Regions from separate parts of the Homo sapiens genome. Here region 2 is linked to region 1. A link means that fine-mapping ties the variant in region 1 to the expression of a gene that starts in the linked region. Tissue or cell type: adrenal gland. Region 1 holds a variant in brackets; the other region holds the start of a gene. All regions are shown on one strand. Distances are from middle to middle.

Evidence for each region. PIP is the estimated chance that this variant, and not a neighbour inherited with it, causes the effect.
Region 2: PRPF31-AS1 starts here. The variant in region 1 is fine-mapped to the expression of PRPF31-AS1 in adrenal gland (GTEx, PIP above 0.99).

The regions. Positions count from the first base shown.
Region 1 is chr19:54,150,623-54,158,878 of GRCh38, reverse strand. CNOT3 (CCR4-NOT transcription complex subunit 3) reads right to left here. Exons shown (of 18, transcript NM_014516.4): 14 at 6,554-6,653; 15 at 6,253-6,451; 16 at 5,880-6,012; 17 at 5,039-5,164; 18 at 3,198-3,570. The coding sequence ends at 3,472. LENG1 (leukocyte receptor cluster member 1) reads left to right here. Exons shown (of 4, transcript NM_024316.3): 2 at 418-597; 3 at 1,854-2,116; 4 at 2,939-3,718. The coding sequence ends at 3,158. LOC102724273 (a long non-coding RNA gene) reads left to right here and starts at 6,652. Exons shown (of 4, transcript XR_001754001.3): 1 at 6,652-7,165; 2 at 8,201-8,256. The variant A/GA (reference allele first, on the strand shown) is at 4,029.
Region 2 is chr19:54,118,308-54,126,307 of GRCh38, reverse strand. PRPF31-AS1 (PRPF31 antisense RNA 1) reads left to right here and starts at 3,666. Exons shown (of 4, transcript NR_186329.1): 1 at 3,666-3,816; 2 at 3,902-4,245; 3 at 4,393-4,472; 4 at 5,916-6,798. It overlaps PRPF31 (pre-mRNA processing factor 31), which reads right to left. Exons shown (of 14, transcript NM_015629.4): 2 at 7,853-8,000; 3 at 7,675-7,735; 4 at 4,365-4,448; 5 at 3,714-3,811; 6 at 2,748-2,854; 7 at 2,390-2,559; 8 at 1,652-1,809.

The DNA of each region.
Region 1 (8,256 bases):
CTGAGCGCTGTTTGAAATCCGCGTCCTGAAGGCAGGGGACAGGGCTTCAGCAGACTTGGGGTAGTCACTTGGAGCCATGGCTAGAATTCAGATCGTCTGGCCTAATGCATACCTTTATGGCTGTTTTAATTGTCTCACTTGAGGTTAGGAACCCCTTTGGTTTAGGCCAGGGACCTCCTCCCATACATCCTTGATGACCCGTGGTTTACTATTTGAAAGGGAGTTTACAAAACCCAGGCGTTGCCTCATCTGCCTACCCTCACCCCCAGCTAGGACAGGTGCCTCTTTTAGGCGCCTAGTGCTCCCTTTCTCATAACCCCAGCACCCTGGACTGCCATTTTCTGTGGTGGGCACCAGACTCACAGTTCTTGAATTACCTCTAGGTTCTGAATGTCCTGCCTATAACTTTCTCCCCAGGCCCGTACAGAATTCCTACGGAAGAAAGCCAGACATCAGAACTCACTGCCTGAGCTTGAAGCAGCAGAGGCGGGAGCCCCAGGTTCTGGCCCTGTGGACCTGTTTCGGGAGCTGCTGGAGGAAGGGAAAGGAGTGATCAGAGGCAATAAAGAGTACAAGGAAGAAAAGCGACAGGAGAAAGTAAGCTGGCCTCACCCACTTCATCAGAGGGGCCATGAATCGAGTTGGAGGGAGGGGGCACTTTAGCCATTGGTTGTGACCAAGGTCAAACAAGAGTGAACACACAGAATTTAGGACCATACCAAGGCATGACACTCAAAAAGCGTTGGCTATTGCCGTCTGGGCGCCCACAGGGGTTGGAGGTAGATGCTAGAGGTCCCCAGCTGCTGGGCAAACCGCTCAGTTCTCCAAACTGGAGGAGTCTCAAACCTGATGGGCTTTTAAAAATTTAAATCAGCCGGCTGTGGCTCACGCCTGTAATCCCACCACCTTGGGAGGCTGAGGCGGGTGGATCACCTGAGGTCAGGAGTTCAAGACCAGCCTGGTCAACATGGTATCTCTAAAAATACAAAAAAAATTAGCCGGGCATGGTGGTGCGCGCCTGTAATCCCAGGGAGGCTGAAGCAGGAGAATCGCTTGACCCAGGAGGTGGAAGCTGCAGTAAGCCGAGATTGCGCCACTGCACTCCAGCCTGGGTGACAGAGCGAGACCCCATCTCAAAACAATCAAACAAAAAGTGAATCAATCGCCTCTTGCTTTTTGGCTAAGATCAAGTGTAAAAGGTACATCAGTGGCTGTGCATGGTGGCTCACGCCTGTAATCCCAGCACTTTGGGAGGCCAACGTGGGTGGATCACCTGAGGTCAGAAGTTCAAGACCAGCCTGGCCAAACATGGCAAAACCCCGTCTCTACTAAAAATACAAAAATTAGCTGGGCATGGTGGTGTGTGCCTGTAATCCCAGCTACTCGGGGGGCTGAGGTAGGAGGATTGCTTGAACCTGGGAAGCAGAGGTTGCAGTGAGCCGAGATCGTGCCACTGCACTCGAGTCTGGGCAACAGAGCGAGACTCCATCTCAAAAAAAAGAGGTACATCAGCTCTTGTCATTTATCTGCTGTCTCTGGACTTGCTGACCCCACCCATCGCTCCTCTGCTTTGCTTGATCCCTTCAGGCTTCTCTTCAAGTCTCTCTGCAAAGATGCCTGCCTCTGAACACTCAAGTGGCTCCACTTGTCCCCTCCTTCCCCTGCTGTTACTGTACCTGCTACTGTCCCCCCAGGGGGAGCTTTGCCTCTGTTTGTCTTCCATCCCCAGCACCTGGTCCAACTGGTTCATAACAAGCCTTAGATACCTGTTCGCTTAGATACCTGTGTCAGGGAGACACACCTGACACCTTGAAAGATTATATCACATCTCTTGTATTTCCTGGCCCCCTCAGGAGAGGCAAGAGAAAGCTCTGGGCATCCTGACATACCTGGGCCAGAGTGCAGCGGAGGCACAGACTCAACCCCCTTGGTACCAGCTACCCCCAGGGCGAGGGGGCCCCCCGCCCGGCCCAGCCCCAGATGAGAAGATCAAGAGCCGTCTGGACCCTCTGCGGGAGATGCAGAAGCATCTGGGGAAGAAGAGACAGCACGGCGGTGATGAAGGCAGTCGCAGCAGAAAGGAAAAGGAGGGGTCTGAGAAGCAGCGACCCAAGGAGTAAGAAGACCCCACCTCGGCAGACCAGGGCCCAGACCTTCAGGGCTTGGCAGCAGCCCAGCATGGGCACTGCAGCGTCTCTGGTCAGGACAGCCAGGGACTCCGTGAAGGGCTGGCTAGGTGGAGAAGTGGTTCTCAGCATGTGGTCCAGGGAGCCCTAGGGGTCCTGACACCCTTTCCCGGGGTGCTGTGGTGTCAAGCCTATTTTCCTGACACTGGTGGACTTTTCCACTCGTGTTCTCAGGCATGTAGTGCAGGTTTCCAGAGGCTGTGTGATGGGGAGACACCCTCACTCTGATGGCCAATGGCAGATGCTTGTGTCCAAACTTTCTTAGTTTTCACTAATGATTTGCAGCATATTAAGAGAACCCATTTAAACAAAAGCTCTTGGGGTCCTTGGTTTTTAAGAGTATAAAGGGGTCCTGAGACCAAAGAGTTTGAGAGCTGCTGGGTTAGAGAGTAAAAGCAGGCTTCTGTCTCCAGGATGCTGCACCCCTGGTCTAGAGGGGGTACACTGCCTGTAGTCTTCTTTCCTCTAGAAAGGGAAACTGAGGGCCAGGGGGCTGCTAAGTGTGCTTTCTTGACCTGGAGAAGCATCAGATTTTAAAGACTGGGGAGGACCAAAGCCCACAGAAGGGAAGGCCAGAGACGTGCCCATGGCGTCCCAGCACCAAGTGGCTGCTTCCAGCAGGCCTAAGGAGCTGAGGCTGGGGTGTGCTGGATGCAGCGGGGCTTCCAGGCGGCAGCTCCCTCTATGGGAGAGGTTGGGGGAATGGCCTCCTAGGGGCTACCAGCTTTCTGACCTCACTCCTCTCCCCACAGGCCTCCATCCCTGGACCAGCTTCGAGCTGAACGTCTGCGGAGGGAAGCAGCTGAGAGGTCTCGGGCAGAGGCCCTGCTGGCCCGGGTCCAAGGCCGGGCACTACAGGAGGGTCAGCCGGAAGAAGACGAGACGGATGACCGGCGGCGGCGGTACAACTCCCAATTCAACCCCCAGCTGGCCCGGCGCCCCCGCCAGCAGGACCCTCACCTTACTCACTGACTCCTGAGGGGGTACAGGAGAGGCCGCTGCTGCCAGCCGTCATATAAAACTATTTATTCATAAATATTTTCCAAAATGAAAATAGGTTTACCAAAAAATGTCCCTCACTGGGGAGGGGAGGAGGGGGCAGCCCTCGCCCCCGGGCCCCCAGGGTGGGGCTGAGAGGAAAACCTCCCGGCCCCCTCCCTGCTTCCTGGGAGAGGGGGATGCCCCGTGGCTTGGGGCCTCCCTCCAGTCTTCCAGGGCAGGGCCCTCACCTGGGCAGGGGGATCAGCATGCGGGGGAAGGGGGTGGGTAGAGGGAGGGGCCGGTGTCACTGGAGGTCCCGGTCCTCCAGGTAGCGGTACTCAAAGGTGAAGCCTTCCTTCTTCCGCTGGCCCCACTTCTCGTAGTCAAAGTAGATGTAGGTGCCCTGGCCGGGGGAGAAGGCGGTCAGTGAGTGGACGAGGAGGTGGTCTGGGATCTGGGCCGGACCAACAGACAAAGGGGACAATTCTTAGGGCTGTGGATGTGTCAGGCACCGGGCCAGCTGCCCTGCACGCACACACTCTCATCCATCCTCACAAGGTTCTTCTTGGGTAGGAAATGTTATCATGCCACTTCAGCGAGGAGGAAACGGAGGGGGCCGCAGAGGTTCCACCGAAGCCAGCTGCCAGAACGGGGCCCCAGCCCCAGGTGTGAGTGCACAGCCTTCGTTTCCTCGAGGGCTGTGGCTTTTGAGCACCTCTCACGTGAGTACAGGATGCACAGCCTAGCATTTAATCTTCACAAAGACCTCGAGGCAGTGGGTACTGTCACCCTTGTTCTAGAGAATGGAACAGTCTCAGAGTCTAAATCCAAGCACTCTGCAGGGACATTTTATTGGTGACG[A/GA]AGTGGTGTGGGAATTTCTGAATGACTGGATGCCCTGAAATGTACTAACTTGGAGGATGGTTTTGGGCCAAACCAGGAAAGGACAGGAAGTCTGTGGTTAACATCTGAGGACACAATGGGAGAGGACCTAGGTTCTAAATGAATGTCTTAAGTGCTTCAAAGATGGCAACCTGGGAGAACCAGGAGAGGGGACTGAGTTCTCTGAGGACAAGGACCTTGTACTACTTCATCCCCATGAAGGGGCTCGGCATCAGGGAAGTATTTGGTGGAAAAAAACATCACTGTAGAACACACCAACTGAAAGTAATTTGAAAAAAAAAATCCATGACACTGACTATGTAGCAGTCACCATTAAGTACTTACATGTTATTAACTCATTTAATCTTCATAACAACTGCATTAGGTAGGTGGTCTTCCCCCCATTTTTACAGATAAGTTAATTGAGACACAGAGGTTCGAGTGACTTGCCTAGAGTCGCCCAGCTGGACTGGGCTGAAACCCAGGTAGGTTGGTTCCAGAGTGTTTGCAAGCAGCAGGAATTTCCCAGTATTAGAACTTGAGAAGCCCATTCAAAAAAAATAGTTTCCGCACTGAGCCCCTGCCCTGCTGAGTGCTGGGACCTGGAGGTGAAGTGGGGGCCATCAAGGTCCCTCGGCAGCAGAGCCCACAGCCTGGTGCAGGGACACATACTGGGAAAATCCCACACCCCAGGCGAGTGTGCCCAGCACTGCAAAGGGGAGGCACTGGGCTGGGTGGCTCCAGGAAGGTTTCTTTGAGGAAGGGACATTTGGGCTGAGACCTACAGGAGGCCTAGGAGCTGGCCAAGTGGAGGATGAGAGGGCGGTGTTCCAGGCTGAGCAGACAGCCAGAGGGAGGAGTACTTGGTCAGGCTGAGGGACTGCGCCAGCTGAAAGGTGGAGGCAAGGGAGCAGAGGCCAGCAGGGGCTGCCTGGAGCCTGGGGACTCTACCCCAACCCTAGCAGCGGGAAGAGAGGGGGCGGGGCCCTCACCTGCTCAAACTCGTCAGTGATGGTCTTGGGCTCCTCGTGCCTCTGGAACCACATCATGTACTTGGTGTGGAATCGCCATGACTGCTTCTTTAGGGCCTTGGCTGCCAGATACTGTGCCTTAGTGCCCTGGGGGAGGAACAGTGGAGAGGGGGATCAGGGGGCCCCCAAACTGGGTGGGGAGCCAGGGGAATGGGGCAGGACATCAGGGCTGAACCCCGGCCCCCGCCACAGACCACAGTTGGGCTGGACAATCCTCTTGGAGATGGGGCTGGGGGCACAGAACATACCAATGCTGATCAGGAGAAGGAAAATGAGACAGGAGGTGAAAATTGCTTTCAGAGAAGCTTTGAGAAGGAAGAAAAACTAATGTGTGATGAGAGCTGAGAGAGGAGGCAATTTAGAAAATTTCCCAAGTGGGGATGAGGGTGGAGGTCACTCATGACTCACTGGGGTTGGGAGGGGGCTGGACAGCTCCCCAGTGGTCTCCAGGGAGGCCTGAGAATGTGCCAATGAGCAGAGTGGGGTCGGCCTAGACTGGGGCTGCTGGAGCAGGGCTGGGGAGGGGCCGCGGGTGAGCCAGTGGGCAACTGGAAGCGGGGCTGAGGTGTGCCTCAGTGGACCAGCCTCGCTGTCAACCCAAGCAGTTCTAACATCTCTGGGCTGGAAGGCGGGGACGGGGACAGGTGGATTTGGGGCAGGGGCCCAGGAGTGGGAATAGGGAGGGGGTGCGGTCCCAGTGGCCGCAGTGGGGCACCCACCTCACCCCTCCAGCCCGAGGGGGGACGGCGGCGGTGGCGGCGAAGCCGGGGGGCCCGAGGCTGCCCCGGGGGCCCTGCTGTACCTCCAGATAGTAGAAGATGAAGAAGAGTGTCTCGGTCGACAGGCGCTGGTAGAATTCCACAGTGTCCGAGTGTGGGGGTGGCATCTGGTGGTGGTAGGGGGGCGTCGGACAGGGGTTCCGGGGGAGGTACTGCCTGTGAGAGCAACAGGAAGGTCAGTGCCAGCTGCCTACTAGTCCTGTCGTGATCAAAAGGGTGCTCAGACATGCATCCCTGCGGGGGGAGGTGGTACAGAAAGACCCAGGGCGGTGCTGACCTTCAGTGGAGAGCCCAAGTCAGGGGCCTGGTGCTCTACCCACAGCCTCACAGGTTCAGCCACTGCCTCCTCCGTAAGACTCAAGTCCCAGACCATCCCCCTTCCCTGTGGCCCCTCACCGAATACGCTCAGAGTCAGAGGGGTGAGGCATGTGGTGCCAGGCGGCCTCTTCCATGGCCTGCTGATAGAGCTGCTCCTTGGTGAGGGGCACAGGGCCCAGTGGACAGACACCCAGCGACAGCGGTATGTTCACCTCTGACAGCTGCAGGGGCGGCTGGGCTGAGGCCGGAGGTGCTGATGTACTGCTCAGGATGATGTCTGTGGGGAGGGTGGGGGTCCGGCCCCCTCAGTGGTGAGGATGGGTCAGGGGCAGCCCCTCCTCTTTGGCCCGCTGCTTCCCCACCATCCTGGGTCCCTCACCTCGCTCGGTCAGGTGCAGCGTTGGCACAGGGTCCTCAATGCCAGAGCTGATGGCTGCCCGTTCCGCCATGGACTTCAAGGAGCTCAGAGGCTCAGGGGCCTGGGGAGGAAACAAGAGGCCTGGCCTGAGCACTTGGGCTGCAGGAGCAAGTGCAGCCTGACACAGGCCCCAGATGCTCTCACCTGCCCTGTTTGGGGGCCGTGGAGGGCCAACGACCCACTCCCCACAATCTACCCATGACAGGTAAAAGCATCAAACTGTAGGGAAACAATCGGAGACCACGACGCATTCATCAGCAGAGGAACGTCTCGTGAGTGGGACTCTGCAGCATGGAATACTACGCCGAGATTTTCAAAATACAAGTTCGTGACATACTACAGAAGTAAACGCCAACCTGCAGAATATGTACAGTGCGCTACCATTTTTGTCAAAGGATGTGCCAATAGTACACGCTCCTTCACTAGGGACACCTACACGCTGGGAGAGCTCCCGCCTGTCTTGAAGGAGGCAGGAGGTCTACATGCTCAGCTGTCTGCCTGTGACTGGCATGGGGTGACTGGAATCGGGGTGGGCCCAGCCCGGCTAGGCTTCAGTCTCCTTGCTGGAAACAGGTAGGTTGGGTCTCCAGCCCCGCAGCCACAGCCTCGTTTCCTATTACAAAGGTTACAGCAGGCTTCTGTTCCCCAAAGTCAGGGCTGGTTCCTCCCATCTCCTCCAGCCACGTGCAGCTGTCCCAAACCCCAGCCCTGTGCTGGACTCTCCACAACGAGTCAGTCGCCAAGGCTTATCCATCCTGTCTCGCTATATCGCCCAGGCAGGTCTCAAACTCCTGGGCTCAAGCTATCCTCCCGCCTCTGCCTCCCTAAGAGCTGGGATTACAGGTGTGAGCCACCACGCCCAGCTATCCGTCCTGCTTCTAAACCCCACTGGATGGCTCCCTTCCCTGTCGTGCCACCATGTCCCACACAGCCCAGGCCTGTCCTCTCCTGCCCAGACCACCCTCCCTCTATCCTGTCCTCACCAGCCCCAGGGGACCTTTCCAATGAAGTCATGTTGTTCCTTCTCTACTCCAAACCTTGCCATGGTTCCCGACCACCCACCCCAGCGATTCATTTTTGTTGTTGGTGGTGTTAAAAGATATGGACCCCTTCTGAAAATCTCAAAGCTGCTGTTTCCCTTTTTCCAGAAAAATGCACGCACTATAAATATCCTGTCCACCTACTTCTAAAATTTGGGCCGGGCACGGTGGCTCACACCTGTAATCCCAGCACTTTGGGAGGTCAAGGTGGGTGGATCACCTGAGGTTCGGAGTTCAAGACCTGCCTGACCAACATGGCAAAACCCCATCTCTATTAAAAATATAAAAATTAGCCTGGCGTGGTGGCAGGCGCCTGTAATCCCAGCTACTCAGTAGGCTGCGGCAGGAGAATCGCTTGAACCCAGGAGGCGGATGTTGCATTCAGCTGAGATTGCACCACTGCACTCCAGCCTGGGTGACAGAGCAAGACTCTGTCTCAAAAAAGAAAAAAAAAAAAAATTAATGCTTCTGTTGGGCCAGAAACTGTTCCAAGAGCTTTATGAGGATGATTTAGTCTTCCAAATAACCCTACATAGTAGGTATAATCGTGACTATTGCCGTTTCCCAGATGAAGGCACAGAAAGGACAATGCCAAGACTTGGACCTGGACAGCCTGGGCGCGCA
Region 2 (8,000 bases), 32 kb after region 1:
GTAAGGATGACAGTAAGGCACGCTGACAACGAGGACGGTGGTGACTGTGGAGACGCCGGGGGGAGTGCACTCGGCCTGGATGCCAGCCCCATGCTAAGCACGCCCCTCGGATCATCTCATCAAATATTCAAATATCGGGCTGGTGTGATCATTGCACCCCCTTTTCAGATGTGGAAACCAAGGCTTCAAGTCATGTGGCCAGGGAGACAGCCAGCAGGTGATGGAGCCAGGGTTCCAATCCAAACTGCAAACAGAGCCCAGCTGTCAGCCACAGTGAAGCGATGGCCAGCCCTGGCCTCCCTTACAGGCCTGTGGTGTCTACGGCCTGTGCCTGGACCGATGTGAGATGGCCAAATGAAGAGGCAGAGGCCTGGGTGACAAGACATCAGGCTCCCTGGGGCAGGTTTAACCCATATGCCCAGGGCTGTGAGGCGGTGGCGATGGCAGGGGTGCAGTGAGGCAGCTGGAGCCCCGAGCCCCAGGCCCACCCGTCCTGGGTTCTATCGCCCACTCTCTCTCCTCCCAGGATGGGGTGACCTGCCAGCCTCCCTGGGTGTGTTCCAGTAGCAGTGCCTGACCTAAAGGGTCGCAGAAAAGACCACAAAAAAAACCCCACACAGGGCTGGGGGGTGGGGCCAGGAAGTGCCTGCCCAGCCTTGGCCATCAGTGCTATTGTTCTCCCCATCCCTGGGGGAGGCCAGGCAGGGCACAGGGCCGTGAGCCTGAGGTAACTCGCCACAGTTGGACAGAGCAGGGTCTGGACCCAGGCCTGTCTGTCCCAGAACCTGTCTTGCTTGTTTTTTTTTTTTTTTGAGACAGAGTCTCACTCTGTCACCCAGGCTGGAGGGCAGTGGTATGATCTTAGCTCACTGCAACCTCCACCTCCTGGGTTCAAGCGATTCTCCTGCCTCAGCCTCCCAAGTAGCTGGGATTATAAGTGTGTGCCACTATACCCAGCTAGTTTTTTGTATTTTTGGTAGAGATGGGGTTTCACCATGTTGGCCAGGCTGGTCTCGAACACCTGACCTCAGGTGATCTGCCCGCCTCGGCCTCCCAAAGTGCTGGGATGACAGGCACGAGCCACTGCGCCCCGCCAGGCTAGCGGGCCTGTGTGTGTGCTGTCAGGCGTCGATGCTGGGATGGTGATGTGTCCCGACTGCAGGGAGAGGACCCGGGAAGCTCCGAGGTTGGTGACCTCTCCTGCCCCTCCTGTGTGTCTCTCCCCATGGCTGATGTGCAGCCCTCAGTGGATTCTGTGAGTCTTTCTAGTGAATGGTCAAACCTGAGGGTGGTCTTCGGAGCAGTTGCACGCTAACCCGACGCTGCTTGTCGTGAGCTAGGCCTGAACTGTAAGTGCTTCATGTGCACTGAGCCCTCGTCCCAACTCATGAAGCAGGCGCTGTGCTCCCATTTGATAGGGGAGGAGACTGAGGCACAGGGCGCTCATGCCTCTTGCCCACAGTCACCTGACTGGTGGGTGCTGGAGCTGGTCTGCTGCAGAGCCCTGGCTCTCACGTCCCATGCCACCCTGTTCCCAGCTCCTGAGTGCTACCGTCAGCTGGGCCAGATGGTGGGTGGCTGCTCAGGCTGTCTGGGCACAGCGGAAGGCTCCAGGGGGGCCGGGGGAGGGGCCATGACGCAGTGGGCTCACCGGTGGCAGGGACTGCACGATGTCACTGTGGTAGATGTAGCCGGTGTGGGGCAGCACTGAGGTAGACGAGAAGCCCGACAGCGTCTTGCGCTGGGCCCCGAGCAGCATGATGTTGCAGGCGGGCATCTTGGAGAGGTTGGTCAGGCCGCCGGCCACACCTGCGGTGGGAGGGAGGGAGGAAGGGGGGGCGGTCAGAAGAAAGCAGAGAGGTGGGGGTGAGTAAATCTGCCTGGGGGCTCGACGTGTGCTGGGCACCTTTACATGAAGTTCTGGTTGGATTCCTCGATGGCCCTGCCAGGCGGGCGACCTGGCCCATTCCGCAAGGGGCAGATGCAAAGGAGGCTCAGAGAGGGAGGGCAGCTGGCCTGGGGGTGCAGGGAGGAGGCCCCCAACAGGAAGCTGACCACCACGTTTGTGCTAAGCCACACTAACGCCGTTCCAGGGATGGCTGTGTTTTGGAACCATTTTCACCAAACCAGGAGCTCCCTGACAACAGGGCCTGGGTGTGGTCATCTCTGGGTTTCCGGCACAGGGGAGGGAGAAGGAGCTGTGGGTGAGTGTTTTTCCCACAGATGAGGCTTTGCTGTGTGCCAGGCTGGCTGACCTCTGTGATGTCCAGGGAGACGGGGTGCTGAGGTCCAGGTGCCAAAGCCCCCATTCTACAGAAAAGGATGTAGCTTTCCCAAGGTCACAGTGTCAGCAGACCCCCGCTCCATGGGACCCAGCCCGGGGACTCACCCATGATCTTGGCGGCCGTGGATGCCCCGATAATGATGGACAGGTTGGGTGCGATGAAGGACATCCGGGACTCCACATACTCGTAGATGCGGTGCTTGGAGGCGTTCAGCTCCAGCGCCATGTCGCAGGCCTCCTCCAGCCGCTCCAGCTCCTCCTCCGACAGCTGCTGCCTGCAGGGGCGGGTGGGCCCAGCCTCCTGGGTCTCCCGCCTGCCTGGTGTGCCCAGCCCCAGCCCTCTCGGTTCTGTGTGTGTGTGTGCATGTGTGTATGTGTGTGTGCGTGTGTACACCTGCGTGTGTAGCTCCAGCCTAATCCCCAATCCCATTAGGGCCCGGCGCCTCCCTCGAAGCGGACATACCCCTGGGTGGTGGAGGCGGTGACGCTGACGACCATGATGGTGGCATTGGTGAGGATCTGCTGCAGGTTCTCATTGTTCTTGCACTTGTCCAGGCTGTTGCCCAGCTCCTGGGGGCGAGCAGAGAAGATAGGGGAGGCTCGGGAACTCAGGAAGGCTCGAGAACCTCTCTTGCTCAGCACCTCCTCAGGTCTCTTCTTAGGGACACTGGGACAGTCAGGGTCTCTGCACTGGGGGCCTCTCCTGCCTCCACCGCCTGAAGCATCCACACCATTCCTGCCTCCACCACGTCAAGCATCCACACCATCTGCCCTGCTTTCGCTGACCTGGAAACGGAGCCCGGGCAGAGTGGCGTCTGGAAAGACTGTGGCCTCACAAGCCTCTGGCCTGCGTCAAGTCGGAGTGCAAATCCGCGGCCTCGCTTCCCTGCAGGGGCTTCCCCACCGCCATCCTAATCCTTTCCTGGACATGCGTGGGGACCTCCTCCTCTCCCCGCCCTCACGCACACCTGCCCCTCTTTTCCGAAACCCTTCCTTGGCTTTCTCCTAAGACCCAAAGGCTGGACGTGATCCGACCTCTTCCCCGTCCCCTCCTTCCCCGCCTCACTTCCTCCCCACTTGTTCCCTCTCCAGCTCTCTGCACTTAGACGTCTCTCTCCCCCAAATCTCCGTGTGCCTGCCCTGTGTCAACCTTCGGATGTCAACTCCAATGCCACCGGCTCCAACCACAGCGGGAGCAGCGTGGGTCAGGCCAGCGGGGAAGCCCTCTCGGGAGACTGGGGTTGGAGGGGAGCCCTGAGAAAGTCCTGTCCAGGCTCCGTCCCTCCCACGCTGGGCAGAGCAGACCACTGAGCCCTCGTCCACTCCTCTCCATCGTCTCCAGACCCTCAGGCCTCTGGGAGGGGGTCCGAGAGTGAGCCCCGCCTGCCCCTTCACGCCAGCAGAAGCACCCCACCTTCTCTGCGCTCACCTTGACCGTGCGGATGTAATCCAGTGCATTGGGGACCAAGGACTCCAGTTCAGGGAATCTCTTTGAGTACTTATCCCGGATGAACTTATGGATGATGTCTAGGGTAAACGGGACAGGAGGTTGTCGGGTGAGATGGAAGGTAGACTCTGCTGGTTGGCCCTAACACCCATGTCCCCTTCTTCCTTTAGTAACTGAAGCCCTGGCTTGTGGCCTGGCACACGGGCACCAGCATACAGCCTTTCTCAGCCGTCCTTACCGCTAGGTGTGACCAGGGGAATTAGTTCTGGTCTGTAAAACGTGAGCTGCAGTGACATGTTCTTAAAGAAAAGAAGCGCCTTGCTGGTGGGAATGCGGAGGTGATGGCTGGAGGTGGGGCAGTCACCTCGCACCGTGAGGCAGGTGGCCGACCAACAGGATGGAAAGAGCCGGGGCCCTACAGGCAGCCAAGCGGCCACACCATCCCCGAGTGCTCCTCAGACTCATACGCGAGAGAACGCACTTCCTTCTTATTTCAGCCACTCTGTGACAGCAGGTCAACCTCGATCTGAGCTTGGGCTTAGGGGCAGGACCCTGGGAAAGGCCAGTGGGGAAGGGAGAGGGGGCGTGAGGGACGTCACACGGGGCTGTCTCCGCCTGCCCCCCAGCACTCACTCAGCTCGTTTTCGATCTCCACGGTCAGGTTGTTGGCATCCACGATGACGCGGTATTCAGGCGCGGCCTCCACTGGTCCCATCACTGTGAGGACACGGAGGCATGGGTGTGAGTATCTAAATCCCTACCCCCTCTCGGGTCCCGCAGCTGGAGGAGGCGGAGGATGAAGTTGGGAGGGGTCAGGAAGGAGGGGCTGAAGAGTAAACCAGGGACAGGCTGATGTCTGCAGACATCCCTGAACTTGTGTTCCTGCCTTCAATCCCTCTCCCTCCACACCAGTCTAGACTTGACCCCATCTACCCCAGAACTGACCGTGTGAAACCTCCTACGGCTCCCCACAGCCCCAAGGCTAATGACCGAGTCCTCAGACTGACATTCAGGGCCTCCCCAACTCCGGAAGCTCTGCAGGGACCAGTGCTGTGCCTGCGTTGGCTGTACCCACAGCCGAGTACCCAGGACAGCACCTGGCACACAGGGAGTTCCCCCGTTCCTGTTTGCTGACTCAGCAGCTCTGCAGTCTGGCCTCCCGCCCTTCCCGCCCCATCCTCTCACCACACCTCATTTTATTCCACTCCAGCCATAAAGGAGTGATCACAGTGCCCCAGACACCCACTCCTCCTAGCCTTTTTTTTTTTTTTTTGAGACATAATTTCGCTCTGGTTGCCCAGGCTAGAGTATAGTGGCATGATCTCAGCTCACTGCAACCTCCGCCTCCTGGGTTCAAGCGATTCTCCTGCCTCAGCCTCCTGAGTAGCTGGGATTACAGGCATGTGCCACCATGCCCGGCTAATTTTTTTTGTTTGTTTGTATTTTTAGTAGAGACGGGGTTTCACCATGTTGGGCAGGCTGGTCTCGAACTCCCGACCTCAGGTGATCCATCTGCCTTGACCACCCAAAGTGCTGGGATGACAGGCGTGAGCCACCGCGCCAGACCCCTCCTGGCCTCTGCATGTGCTGCTCCCTCTCCCCAGAGCATCCCTTACCCCACGTCTGTTTCTGGAAAACGCTTCTTTGTGCTTTAGTAATAAGAGGTCAGGCACAGTGGCTCATACCTGTAATCCCAGCACTTTGGGAGGCTGAGGCAGGAGAACTGCTTGAGCCCAGGAGTTGGAGAGCAACCTGGGCGACATAGGGAGACCCCATCTCTACACATAATTAAAGAAAAAAAATTAGCCAGGCATGGTGGTGTACACCTGTGGTCCCAGCTGCCTGGGAGGCTGAGGCAGGAACGCCTGAGCCCACAAGGTCAAGGCTGCAGTGAGCTGGGATCGTGCCACTGCATTCTGGCCTGGGTGACAGAGTGAGACCCTGTCTCAAAAAACAAACAAACAAAAAGATGTTGTGTTTAAAAGTCATGCAAATACTAACTGCCTGATGTCACAGCCAGTAGAAGGCAGAGCTCAGATCTGACACCAGGCAGGGCGGCGTCAGAGTCTGCACTCCTAACCCTGATGCTCAAATGGCTCTTTAAGTCCTTAAGACTCAGGCAGCGACTCAGAATCCTTCCCTCCCTTTCTGGAAGGATCAGACGCCTCCTCTGTGTACCCGCAGCACTTGTGCACCTCCAGTAAACAGGGACTGCCACAGCTTGTGAGATGTTTCACCTCTGCCTCCTCAACCAGACACCGGGTGTGACGGGGTCTGACTCCATCCCTGAGCCTGGCCTGACATCAGGAAATGTCACTTTCTGTGTCCCATAACCCTCTGGAGGGAGAAATTCCTTGGCCTGGCATCTGGAACTCTGCAGGATTCTCTCTCCGGATATCTGAGGCCCCGGGCCTGCCGCTGTCTTTCCCTGGGCCCCCTTCTCCCTTTCTTTGCCTGGCACATGCATTCATGCTCTACAGTCCAATTCAGCTATCGATTCTTCCTGACACCTGGGGCAGGGTCAGCCAGTCCCTCCTGTGGCTCCGGTGTCCCCAGCTTGGTACCACCACTGATAGCTGTCTGGAACCTGGCCTGCCTCTTCCACTAGACCTTGAGTACTTTGAGAGCAAAGACCTGGGCGATTCAACTGGGTGCCCAGGTAAACGTTAAAGAAAGCAAGCAGTGAGTCTCCCGAAACTCTGCCCTCTCACTACACTTCTTTCCCCAGAAACCTCCTATGGCTTCCTGTCATCAACAAATTCCATTCAAGAAGAATGGGAAGGCTGGGCGTAGTGGCTCATGCCTGTAATCCCAGCACTTTGGGAGGCCGAGGTGGGCGGATTACTTGAGGTCAGGAGTTCGAGACTAGCCTGGTCAACATGGTGAAACCCCATCTCTACTAAAAAATACAAAATAGCCAGGCATGGTGTTGCATACCTGTAATCCCAGCTATACATAAGGCTGAGGGAGGAGAATCGCTTGAACCCGGGAGGTGGAGGTTGCAATGAGCCAAGAACACATCACTGCACTCCAGCCTGGGCGACAGAGGGAGACTCTATCTCAAGGAAAAAAAAAAAAGAATAGGAATGGTAACAGGACTGCCCTCTTAAGAGTGAGTCTGAGCACTCATGAGATAAGCTAGTGTTCTCTCAATTTGGGCATGAGAAAAGGTTTTAGGTTATTTTTTTTTTTTTTGAGACGGAGTCTTGCTCTGTCGCCCAGGCTGGAGTGCAGTGGCACGATCTCGGCTCACTGCAAGCTCCGCCTCCCAGGTTCACGCCATTCTCCCGCCTCAGCCTCCTGAGTAGCTGGGACTACAGGCACCCGCCACCACGCCTGGCTAATTTTTTGTATTTTTAGTAGAGACGGGGTGTCACCGTGTTAGCCAGGATGGTCTCGATCTCCTGAACTCATGATCCACCTGCCTCCGCCTCCCAAAGTGCTGGGATTACAGGCGTGAGCCACGGCGCCCGGCCTTAGGTGGTTCCTAAATAATTATATATCTATTTTTATACAGTGACTTTGTCTTTGCCAAATGATACCAGTTTTCCATTCATGGTAGCAATTTGCTTCCTTCTCAGATAAATTTAAGAAAAAAAGTCCTAGACTCAAAGAATATGTTAAGCAAATAATAGGATAAGCGGCTTATAGATGTGGCAAAAACCCTGTAACCGGTCATGTGAATCAGTGAAGTCTGGGAAACCTCAAGCTGAGTCCTATCATGATCAGTAAGCTCAGCACACAGGAAGGACTTAAGAAGCATGAGCTTTACAATGCAATATATATTTAGTGGAAAAGGGAACGGGTTGGGGTGAAACAAAAAAAAAAGAAGGCTCTGGAAAAGGCTGAGAAGGAGATATACCCAGCCACAAGCAGCCAGGGAGCCAGGGGGCCTGGCAGGAGAGACAGGAGATGGGGAGGGGCACAGAGTGGGAGGAAGCACCTTCTGAAGCTTTGGCTTGCTTGCTGATATACTCCTCAATCTTCATCATAATCTCAGCAAACTGTAGGAAAGGAGAAGACAGTCAGAATCCAGCACTCTTCAAAAAGAAGCCTGTATCACCCCCTTCTGGGAGATTCTGTCTAGAGCCCCCTGCTAGGAACACCTCTTGTCCTCTTACCATCTTACTATCCCATAGCTTGGCGATGGTCTTGACTGAATCCCCGGAAAGATCCAGCTGTGTCTCCTCCTGCACATCCTCGATCGCTGGCTCCTCTTCTTCCTCCCCATAGCTTCCTCCTTCCTCCTCTTCTGCTGCCTCTTCGAGA